Linked DNA regions of Homo sapiens: region 2 is linked to region 1. The links come from fine-mapping of genetic effects on gene expression. A gene starts in region 1. The other region holds a variant in brackets. All regions are shown on one strand. Distances are from middle to middle.

Evidence for each region. PIP is the estimated chance that this variant, and not a neighbour inherited with it, causes the effect.
Region 2: its variant is the best candidate, but not a certain one, in a credible set for the expression of ZNF18 in tibial artery (GTEx, PIP 0.61).

The regions. Positions count from the first base shown.
Region 1 is chr17:11,995,146-12,000,528 of GRCh38, reverse strand. ZNF18 (zinc finger protein 18) reads left to right here and starts at 3,054. Exons shown (of 7, transcript NM_001303281.2): 1 at 3,054-3,098. RefSeq lists enhancers at 2,486-2,565, 2,636-2,875, 1,990-2,973 and a silencer at 2,906-3,355.
Region 2 is chr17:12,532,786-12,538,140 of GRCh38, reverse strand. No RefSeq gene overlaps it. Among named protein-coding and RNA genes, the nearest start is that of LINC00670, 15 kb to the left of the region's middle. The variant G/A (reference allele first, on the strand shown) is at 3,192.

The DNA.
Region 1 (5,383 bases):
CCATGTTGGTTAGGCTGGTCTCGAAGTGCAGACCTCAGGTGATCTGCCCATGTCGGCCTCCCAAAGTGCTAGGATTACAGGCGTGAACCACCACACCCAGCAATTCCTTCTTTCTTTGAACACTTTATGCAGTTGGCTTCCCGGATACCACTCTCTGTTTTCCTGCTACCTCAGTGGCTCCTCAGTTTCTTTCTCCTTTAATAGATTTTTCTTATTACCCTGACCCTATATGTTGGCGTGGTCCAGGGCTTGGTCTTTATAGTGCTTCTCTTTATTGTCACTCATTGTTTCATGGCCTAAACGTTTATGGGTGGGCCTGGTGGCTCGCACCTGTAATTCCAGCACTTTGGGAGACTGAGGTGGGTGGATCACCTGAGGTCAGGAATTTGAGACCAGCCTGGCCAACATGATGAAACTTCATCTCTGCTAAAAATACAAAAAGTAGCTGGGCACGGTGGCAAGCATGTGTAATCCCAGCTACTCAGGAGGCTGAGGCAGGAGAATCACTTAAACCTGGAGTCGGAGGTTGCAGTGAGCTGAGATTCTGGCACTACATTGGGCAACAGAGCAAGATTCTGTCTCAAACAACAACAACAACAAAAACTTTTGCAATTTCCTCTGCCTGGAGGTTCCCACAGATACACGCAAGGCTTGCGTCTTAATTAACTTCCGGTCTGGATTCAAGCCTGTTTTATCTGTTAGTCCTTCCCTGACCATCCTATATAACTTGCACTCCATCTCTAACAGTACCTCTCCTCCTTACCCCAATGTAATTTTCTTCACAACACCTATAATTACCACTTGTGCACTTATTTATTGTCCAGCTCACCCTACAAAATATAAGTCTTGGGAGGGCTGGGACTTTGTGTGTTTAGTTCATTCTTGCATATATAGCTATTGGAAGAGTGCTGGGCACATCATCTGGTAAATATTTATTGAATGAGTAAGTGAATAATAGAAATAGATGACACCTTTTCATTATTTCCTAAGCTGAGGTAGATATCTCCCTATTTTAAAAAATATTTTGATTGTTCAGCCTGTTTCGAAATAAGTGTTTATGCCTTTTCCTAAGGTGCCAGTTTATAAAGAAATTATTAAACTTCAAAGTGTCATTTTCATATCAGGAACCATCTACCAGGATTAGAGTTCTCAAACTGAGGTTTGTGGGTTCCAAGGATGGGTTTCAAGGCTGTGTTAGCTCCCTGGATTTGAGTGCAAAGTGTTGTATGTAGATGTGTATGTGCATTTTTCTTGGGAAAAATTTTACCTTCCATCAGATTCACAAAGGAGTCAGAACCCAATTAATGGTTTTGAATTACTGTTATCTTCCTTGGGTGTTGATCAGCTAAAAGCGAACACATTGAAGATAAAACTCCTATAATCTTCCCCTCTAAACCACCTTATCTCTTGACTTTCTTAGAAGCAGAGCACATTGATGTTGGAAGCAATACCCAATGAAGGTGTCCCTCTAAATGTGCCTGGTAAATTGTTAGCCATGCTGTCCTCAGGAACTCAAAGCAGCGCCATCAATCACATGAATGTTAGAAACGTCCAGCTAGGTGCCATGGCTCATGCCTGTAATCCCAGCACTTTGGGAGGCCAAGGTGGGTGGATCACTTGAGGTCACGAGTTCGAGACCAGCCTGGCCAACATGGTGAAACCCCGTCTCCACCAAAAATACAAAAAAAAAAAAAAAAAAAAAAAAAGACTAGAAACTTCCACCTATGTCAGGCTGAAACAGTAGTTTCACACATAGGATCTTGTTCAGACCCTGGGACTTAAGAGAACATGTCGAATCCCTTTTCCGCTGGTCACTTTTCAGGTACATGAAGATGTAATCCCATCCCCGCATCAAGCTTTATTTCTCCAGAGGAGGATCTTTAATTCTTGTAAACATGGGACAGGTACAGGACATGTTATGATAATGACAGGTACAGGACATGTTATGATAATGACAGGTACAGGACATGTTATGATAATGACAGGTACAGGACATGTTATGATAATGACAGGTACAGGACATGTTATGATAATGACAGGTACAGGACATGTTATGATAATGACAGCTCTTCTTTAAATTTTTATTTTTTATTTATTTTATTTCCATAGGTTATTGGGGAACATGGCAGCTTTTTTTGAATACCCTCCTCTTTGCCAGTTGCCCAAGGTGGAACACCCAAACTTTGACATGATACTTCCATTAATGCAACTTAGTATCACAAGTTGATGTCGTGGCCCAGCACAGGATGGCCTGGAAACCGGCAACACTGGACGCTGGGGAAAGGGTAAGAAGGTCTTGACCATTACAAATGGTGTGGAACTGAGCCGAGGGAGGGATAGTGAGAAGGGAGAGAGGGTGAGGTGTCTGAGAGACAATGAGGTCAAATCAGAGGATTCAGCCATTGTTGGCGTGTGGGAAAGGGAAGGAGAAGGGAAGAGTCAGGGATGACATTTGTTGAGAGAGAGAGAGAGAAGAGAGAGAGACGCAGGTGGAAAGAGGATGGCACCACATTGGACTAGCCCCAACGGAATGGGGAGAAGTGGGAGAGGACCCAGGGGATGCAGAGCTGATGAGAGTGGGAGAACCAAGACAGAGGAAGAAGGTTGGGGCAAATCAAGTGTCTCAGGGAGGCCCAGTGAGGCAAGAACGGAAAGGAGAAAGGCGGCGGTTAAGAATCAGGGATAATGGCAGAGCGTTGCAGCTCTGCGGGTGGGACTGGGCGGAAGGGTTTGGGAGAGACAAAGAAATGATCTTTGAAGGCCTCGCAGTGCTTGGCCGAGTGCCTGGCACAGAATAGGTGCGCAATAAATGACGGGTGAGAAGTGAAGGAACTCAGGAACAGTGATTAGTGAGTGAGTGACGGAAGGAACGGAGGATGGCGTTGGCTCGGGAACCTCGCTGCCATGTCGGTGGAGGCTCCTGGGCTGCAACGCCAGAGAGAGGCGGGGCGTCCCCGACGGCCAATAGGAGCTTCGGTATCAGCTCCGCCCCCGCCCCCTAGCTCCGCCCGGTGCCGCACGTCGTTCGCCTGCCGCCTGAGGCGCGCGCAGCCACCCAGCTCCCGGAAGTGCGCCCGGAGCCGGCGCCGCGGGCCGAGGTGAGCGCGCTTGCGGGGCGGTCCCGGCCTCCGGCCGCTCGGGGTCAGGCCTTGCGCTATCTGCGTCCGCACCTGACTCAGCTGGGCACCCCGGAGCTACGGAGGGGCCAGCGGGCTCCCTTGCCCATGCGTCTGGGAGCGCGCGGGGGACGTGGCGAGTGCGGGGCCGGGGCAGCCATGGCTGGGAGTGGACCGTGGGTGCGGGGGGATGTGTGAACCCCGTCCCGGCTCTGCATTCCTGCGCCTCTGCGCCCCGCGGGACCGGCCGGGTCTCTGCACTGGGACCGAAAACGGGCTCCTCCCCGCTGTCTTCCCCTAAGGGCTGAAAATGAGTCTCTGGAAGAGGAAACCCGATGGGATGATGCCTGGAGTCTCTCCCTCTCTCATCAGAGTGCAGTCGGCATTTGGGGGGCGCATGGTGGAGAATACATATCCAATGAGCAGCGCTGCCCTGGCCTCGAGCACTAAATGCCAGTTCCCCTAGCTGCTTGTGACAACCAGAAAACGCCCCAACAAATCACCAGACGTTGGCAGTTCTCCCCAAAGCAAAGGCTTTAGAGCTTCCTGGGTTAATCTGGCTGCCACTTGTGAGCCTCGGAGGTTCCTGATCTGTACACCAGGGTAATTGTGGGAATTGGAAATACATGAACCGAGCTTAATAATGAGCCGATACGTAGTAGGTGCTTAACAAATGGTTACTTATATATGTAACCATGTATGTAACCACTTGTGTATATTACACCTAGAATGCACTTTTAAAAATTCATTCTATTTGTTAAAGGTTTAATAACAGGTATAACAGACAACCTTATTTTTTTTTCATAACTAATGGGGGCAGTTCCTCATGAGGTTATCGGAATATAAACTCTATTAAATTTTTAATACTATATAAAGTAATTTAATTTTGAATAATCGAGACATTTTTCTTACACACTACCTGGGAGTATAATATTACTAACAAAAGATTTAAGTATTTTATAAAATCTGTAGTTTTTCCAAAATGTCATTTCTCTTAAATATTATCTAAACTGCTATCTTAATTTAGGAAACAGATAAATTGCAGTAAGTTTACAGGTCGGTATCTTGCTATCTAAAATCTTGCCGCTTGTTATTTGAAACTCTTGAGCCAAATAGGTTGGATTTACAAAGCAAGGTATTTTTAAAAATATATTTATTCGTTTTTTAAGATGTTATTTGAAACTGTAGGTTTACCTCTGAGCTAAAGCTGCTTTTCAGGTGGTTTGATAATGCTGTCATTGTCACTCAGTATGAAAACATATTTTAATTTCCTTTGTGATTTTTTTCTTTGACTATGGGTTAAGAGCATTATTTAGTAATTTCCATAAATTGGGATTTTCTAGTTATTGTTATTGATTTCTACTTTAATTGCACTATGATCAGAGAATATATTTGAACCCAGGAAGCTCTAAAGTTTTCCATTTGACCTTTCTGGTTTTGTTTCTCTTGTGTTCCTTTTCTATCAGATATTGGGTTTTTGAGTGTTTTTTGGTATTGCTTTAATGGCTTTTTAGCAATACCACTTTGCGTAATATTTTTAGAGCTAATTTTAAGATATCAGTCATTTGAAAATTATGCATATGGTCTGTTTTGATGAATACTCTTTGCACTTGTAATGAATGTATACTCTGCAGTTCTTGGGTCTAGTGTTCTGAAAATGTCAATTAGAGCAAGTCGGTTGATAGTGTTCAGATTTTTTGACTTCACTGACTCTTTTTTTTTTTTTTTTTGAGATGGAGTCTCCCTCTGTCGCCCAGGCTGGAGTGCAGTGGTACGATCTTGACTCACTGCAACTTCCGCCTCCCAGGTTCAGGCTGTTCTCCTACCTCAGCCTCCTGAGTTGCTGGGATTACAGGTGCGCACCACCATGCCCAGCTAATTTTTGTATTTTTAGTAGAGATGGGGTTTTACTGCGTTGGCCAGGCTGGTCTCAAACTCTTGACCACAGGTGGTCCTCCCGCCTAGGGCTTCCAAAGTGCTGGGATTGCAGGCGTGACCCACCGCGCCTGGCCTGGGTTTCTTTTTTTTTTTCTTGCAGTGGTGTGATCTCGGCTCACTGCAACCTCTGCCCCCTTGGGTTCAAGCAATTCTCCTGCCTCACTCAGCCTCCCTGGTAGCTGGGATTACAGGCATTCACCACCACGCCCGGTTAATTTTTGTATTTTTAGTAGAGATGGGGTTTTGCCATGTTGGACAGGCTGGTCTTGAACTCCTGACCTCAAATGATCCCCCTGCCTTGGACGCCCAGAATGCTAGGATTACAGGCG
Region 2 (5,355 bases), 540 kb before region 1:
TCCAAGGCACCAAACACTTTCTTAGCTTGCCTTTCACCTCACTGATAATATATTGAGTCAGTCATCTCAGTCATCTCCGCTGTTCTACTTCTTCTGCCTCACCTTTTAATTCCAGTGTTTCCTGGGGCTTAATGTTTGGTCTCTTTTCTTCTCTGCCTCATTCAATCCCTTGGAGAAATTATTTGGTTAACTAAATTAGAGCTGCAGCCAGATCTCTTTCTTGAACTCCACATTTGTTTGCCCAACTATCTATTCAACTTCTTCACATGAATGTCTGATAAAATATCTTAAATTTGATATTTCCCAGACTGAATTCCTATACACTCCATTCTTCCAGTTGCTTAAGCTAAAAAATTACCTAGTTAACCCTGACTCTTCCTATTTCTCTCAAATTCCATACATGATCAAATGCTCTCTCTGTTTTCAAAGTCGAAAGCTTTGTTCAGAGTCACTAGGCTGTAACCAAGGTGTTGGTCAGGCTATCCTTCCCTGAGCTAGGGAAGAAATATGCTTCCAAGCTTATTCAGGATGTTGGCAGAATCTGACTCATCATATCTCTGGCTACCATCTTTGTCTATGAGTTATCACCACATACTTGCACCTAGAAAATGGGTCGAGACCATTGCATTTCCCACCGAGCATAGAGTACATTTGTAGTCATCAAATACAATTATTAAAACCTCATTTGGAAAACTGATTTGGATCAGGAATCACGTCAATATTACCACATAAACTAGAATTTACTGTAAAGTAAGAAGTCTTATTGATTCTGGAAGACTTCTTTGACTAGTTGGAAGTAAGAGTAAGTTCCTTACTCATCTTTTTTGCCTTTGTTTTTACCTGACAATCACTTTTCTTTTTTTTTTGAGACGGAGTCTCGCCCTGTTGCCCAGTGTTGCCCAGGCTGGAGTGCAATGGCGTGATCTTGGCTCACTGAAACCTCCGCCTTCCAGGTTCAAGCGATTCTCCTGCCTCAGGGTCCCAAGTAGCTGAGATTACAGGTGCTTGCCACCATGCCTGGCTAATTTTTTGTGTCTTTAGTAGAGACGGGGTGTCACCATGTTGGCCAGGCTGGTCTCAAATCCCTAACCTCGTGATCCGCCTGCCTCGGCCTCTCAAAGTGCTGGGATTACAGGCATGAGCCATCGCACCCGGCCTGACAATCACTTTTCAAGTAACAGAACAGTTTGGACATGCTCATTCTTATACCAAACTTCCAAGACTTTTAAGTTACACAAACTTTTTTTTTCAGAATGTCAAAGGGGATAATTATCCTCCTCCAAAGATAAGCAAGACTTCATTATTCTATCCAAAGCCTACAGTAGACTTTTGATTTTTTGACTTCTAACCTCTGAGTACAAATAATGTCTGTACTTGAAGTTTTCCTTTGAGTACATTAGTCAGTATAGATTCAACACTTGACACAAGGGCACATGCATGAGAGTACATGTGTCCACTGTTAATGTTCTTTGATGACGACAGAGAAATTCCATCACATATGATACATTTACATTCTTTCATTAACTACTCTATACCAGATGACCTCCACAATTTTACAGGAAGTGCTGATCTCCATTTTCTAATTTTATTCTACTTTTGAAAGAACTGAGACCATATTGTCATAATTAAACATTATTCTGGAGGTTCAGGTAAGGCCTTCTCTCTAAGAGGTGATTTTCACATAAAGGAGAAAACTGGCCTTGGTTTTAGAAGACTTAGATTCACTTCTGGCTCTGCCACTACTCGCTGGGAAACTTGAGCAAACAACTTAATCTCTCAGCTTCAACAGAATACTTACACATCGTGCAGGATTATAATGAGTATCAAGTGAGGTAATGTGGGTAAACACATATTAAAACTAGTTAAAGTTCTGCTCAAGTGTAATTCAACAATTTCCACAGCCAGTTTACCTTGGTGAATAAACACACTTAATCATAGCCTGATAAAATTTTCTCTTGGTACACTGGAGTCTTGCAAATGCCTAAGGAAGGATAGATCATAAAGCAATGTAGTAACCCAGGTGGAGAAACAGCACGTGGCATGGTTCTGCCTGTGTCAGGCCACACTGAAAAGGGTAAGGCAGGGGCAGAGTTAGCCTTCTGGTTTTGTACTTTCTTTTTTTTCTTTTCTTTTCTTTTTTTTTTTTTTTTTTTTTTTTGAGATGGAGTCTCACTCTGTCACCAGGCTGGAGTGCAGTGGCGCAATCTCGGCTCACTGCAACCTCCGCCTCCCAGTTTCAAGCAATTCTACTGCCTCAGCCTCCCGAGTAGCTGGAACTACAGGAGCACGCCACCACGCCCAGCTAATTTTATGTGTGTGTTTTCAGTAGAGATGGGGTTTCACCATGTTGACCAAGATGGTCTCCATCTCTTGACCTCATGATCCTCCCGCCTCGGCCTCCCAAAGTGCTGTGATTACAGGCGTGAGCCACCACGTCTGGTTGGTTTTGTGCTTTCTTACATCCCTTGCTTTGATAGTGCCTAAGTTTTCTATTGCTGCGTATCAAATGACCATAAACATAGTGGCTTCAAACAGTACACATTTATTTCACAGTTAGGAAACTGAGTATAGCCTAGCTGAGTGATTTCTTCAGAGTCAGTAGGCTGTAACCAAAGTGTTGGTCAGGTTATATTTTCATTTAATGGCTCAGCTGGGGAAGAATCTGCTTCCAAGCTTATTCAGGATGTTGGCAGAATTAATCTCCTGTGGCTGCATGACTGAGGGCCATGGCTTTTTGCTAGCTGTTGACTGAAGGTTGCTCTGAGATCTTAGGCGCTGACAGCAGATCCTGGAGCGCACCCGCAGTTTCTTGCCAATTAGGCTTCTCCAACTTGGCCACTTACTTCATTAAGCCTCTAAGGAGGGACTTTAGTTTCAATCTACTAGGATGGAGTATTATATAAAGTAATGTAATAATGGCCATCACATCCCACCACCTTTGCATATAATACTGCCTAATCATGAGATATACCACCTATCGTTGCATGTAATACCACCTAATCATGCATTATCTTTGCCACATTGGTTAGAAGCAAGTCACAGGTCTTGCCTACCCTCAAGGAGAGAGAATTACATAAGGGCATGGACTCCAAGAGACAGGGATGATATGGGTACACTAAAGCCTGTTCATCATAAGCAGCACCTATACTTTTTTCCAGAGAATCAAAGACTTGGGATAAGTTGGAGGAAAG[G/A]TTATATAGTTATCGTAAACAATCAGAAAAATTTTCTTTTTTCCCCAGATTTTATATACAAAGATTGCCACTGTCCAGTACCCTATTCATTAGAAACCTTGGGTATCAGAGATCGGCACCCTGTTGAGTTTTATGGCAATGATTTTGTTCCAGCTGCTCAGTAGCAGGAGAAAATGTTTTATTGAGGTGTGTTCAAAACCAAGGAATAAGGATGCCACAGGAATGGCTAAAAGGGAGTGATTACTGGGGCTTACCTGGAATGGATGAGCGGTGGCTTCTCTGTGTACTCAACATTATTGCTCTCTCTTAAGTTCATCTATCTCACTCCTGGCTTTGGTTTATCACTCTCCCTATGGTCTTAGCTCTAGCCCATATCCTCCTGACTTCAGCCTCTTTTGGCAGCTGCAATCCTTCTATAAATTTTGTTCAACTTCCTGAGACAGAGAGTCCATTGTCTAACTCACTTTAAAAACAAAACAAAAAAACAGGGCACTAATTCAGATCACAAGGTGATATGAGCCTTTGTATTCTTTTCTCATGGGTCCATATACATGCTGGTTCTTTTAGCTAAATCCTGGGGTTGAAGTACACTGTTCAAAGCTTGTTCAACTTGCTGCAGCTTTCTTTTGCAAGGACTATAGAAAGGAAAGCCTCTGGCCGGGCGCAGTGGCTCAGCCTGTAATCCCAGCACTTTGGGAGGCCTAGGCAGGTGGATCTCCTGAGGTCAGGAGTTCAAGACCTGCCTGGCCAACATGAAACCCCATCTCTATTAAAAGCACAAAAATCAGCCCGGCGTGGTGGTGGGAGCCTGTAATCCCAGCTACTCAGGAGCCTGAGGCAGGAGAATAGCTTGAACCCAGGAGGCGGAGGTTGCAGTGAGCCGAGATCGCGCCATTGCACTCTAGCCTGGGCAACAAGAGTGAGACTCCGTCTCAAAAAAAATTTAAAAAATGAAAGGAAAGCCTCTGTGACAACTCAGTGATGGTCATTTTCAGTCAAAAAGAAAAGTAATCACCATATCCGTGATTTTAAAATATTTCTGATATTTCTGAAAAATATCCAATATGTTTAAAATTTTTTAGTTTTGCAAAAGAAAACTAATCATCACATCCATTACTAAGGGCATGATGGTCTAAGGTTCTGCAGTAAGATAGCATTATAGTAAGAATTCTCAAAAAGATGAAGAGAGCACAAAGCGTAGCATCTGGATCTGAAAACAATATGTATAAATTGTAAATGCAATCAAACTATTGACAGACTAGCTACTGCTGAGAAAACGCTTTGATGGTCTGCAAGATCAAATGAAAAAAATATTTTACAAGGAACATAAACAAATTAAAACCATAAATGAGAATAGAAGAAGCTTAGAGGAGGCCAGGTACGGTGGCTCATGCCTGTAATCCCAGCACTTTGGGAGGCTGAGGCAGGCAGATTACCTGAGGGCAGGAGTTCGAGACCAGCCTGACCAATATGGTGAAATCCCGTCTCTACTAAAAGTACAAAAATTAGCCAGGCATGGTGGTGGGCGCCTGTAATCCCAGCTATTAGGGAAGCTGAGGCAGAGAATTGCTTGAACCTGGGAGGCAGAGGTTGCAGTGAGCCGAGATCTCGCCACTGCACTCCAGCCTGGATGACAGAGTGAGACTCCATCAAAAAAAAAAAAAAAAAAAGAAGAAGAAGAAGAAGAAGAAGCTTAGAGGATAGATACAATATACCTAATATGCAAATAAGGAAAATTCTAGAAGAAGAAAAAAAGGTCAAATATAAGAAAAGCAATAACTGTAGAAGGAATACAAATTTCAACTTCAGACATATGGTTAATTTGATGAATGCTTTCAGAAATTCCCCCAACACAATTCATAAAAACAATGTGATGAATAGAAACAATTTCTGAGGTACTAGTTGTGTCAAAAGAGGTGAGGAAGCCATGAAAATAAGTAAATTGTTTCCCATTTAGTAGGTAGCCCAGACTAGAGCAGTGAATATCTTGGAGAATGTAATTGCTTGAATTAGGTTGCCCACAGCAGCAATGCTATTGGTGTGCTAAGTTCTCACAGCGAGGTATTTTCACTCACGAATAAAGACCCTCTGAAGAACTAAAGATGAGCAAGGTTAATTAAATCTGGCTACCAGCAGAAGCAGAAGTAAATTCAGTCAGGATAAA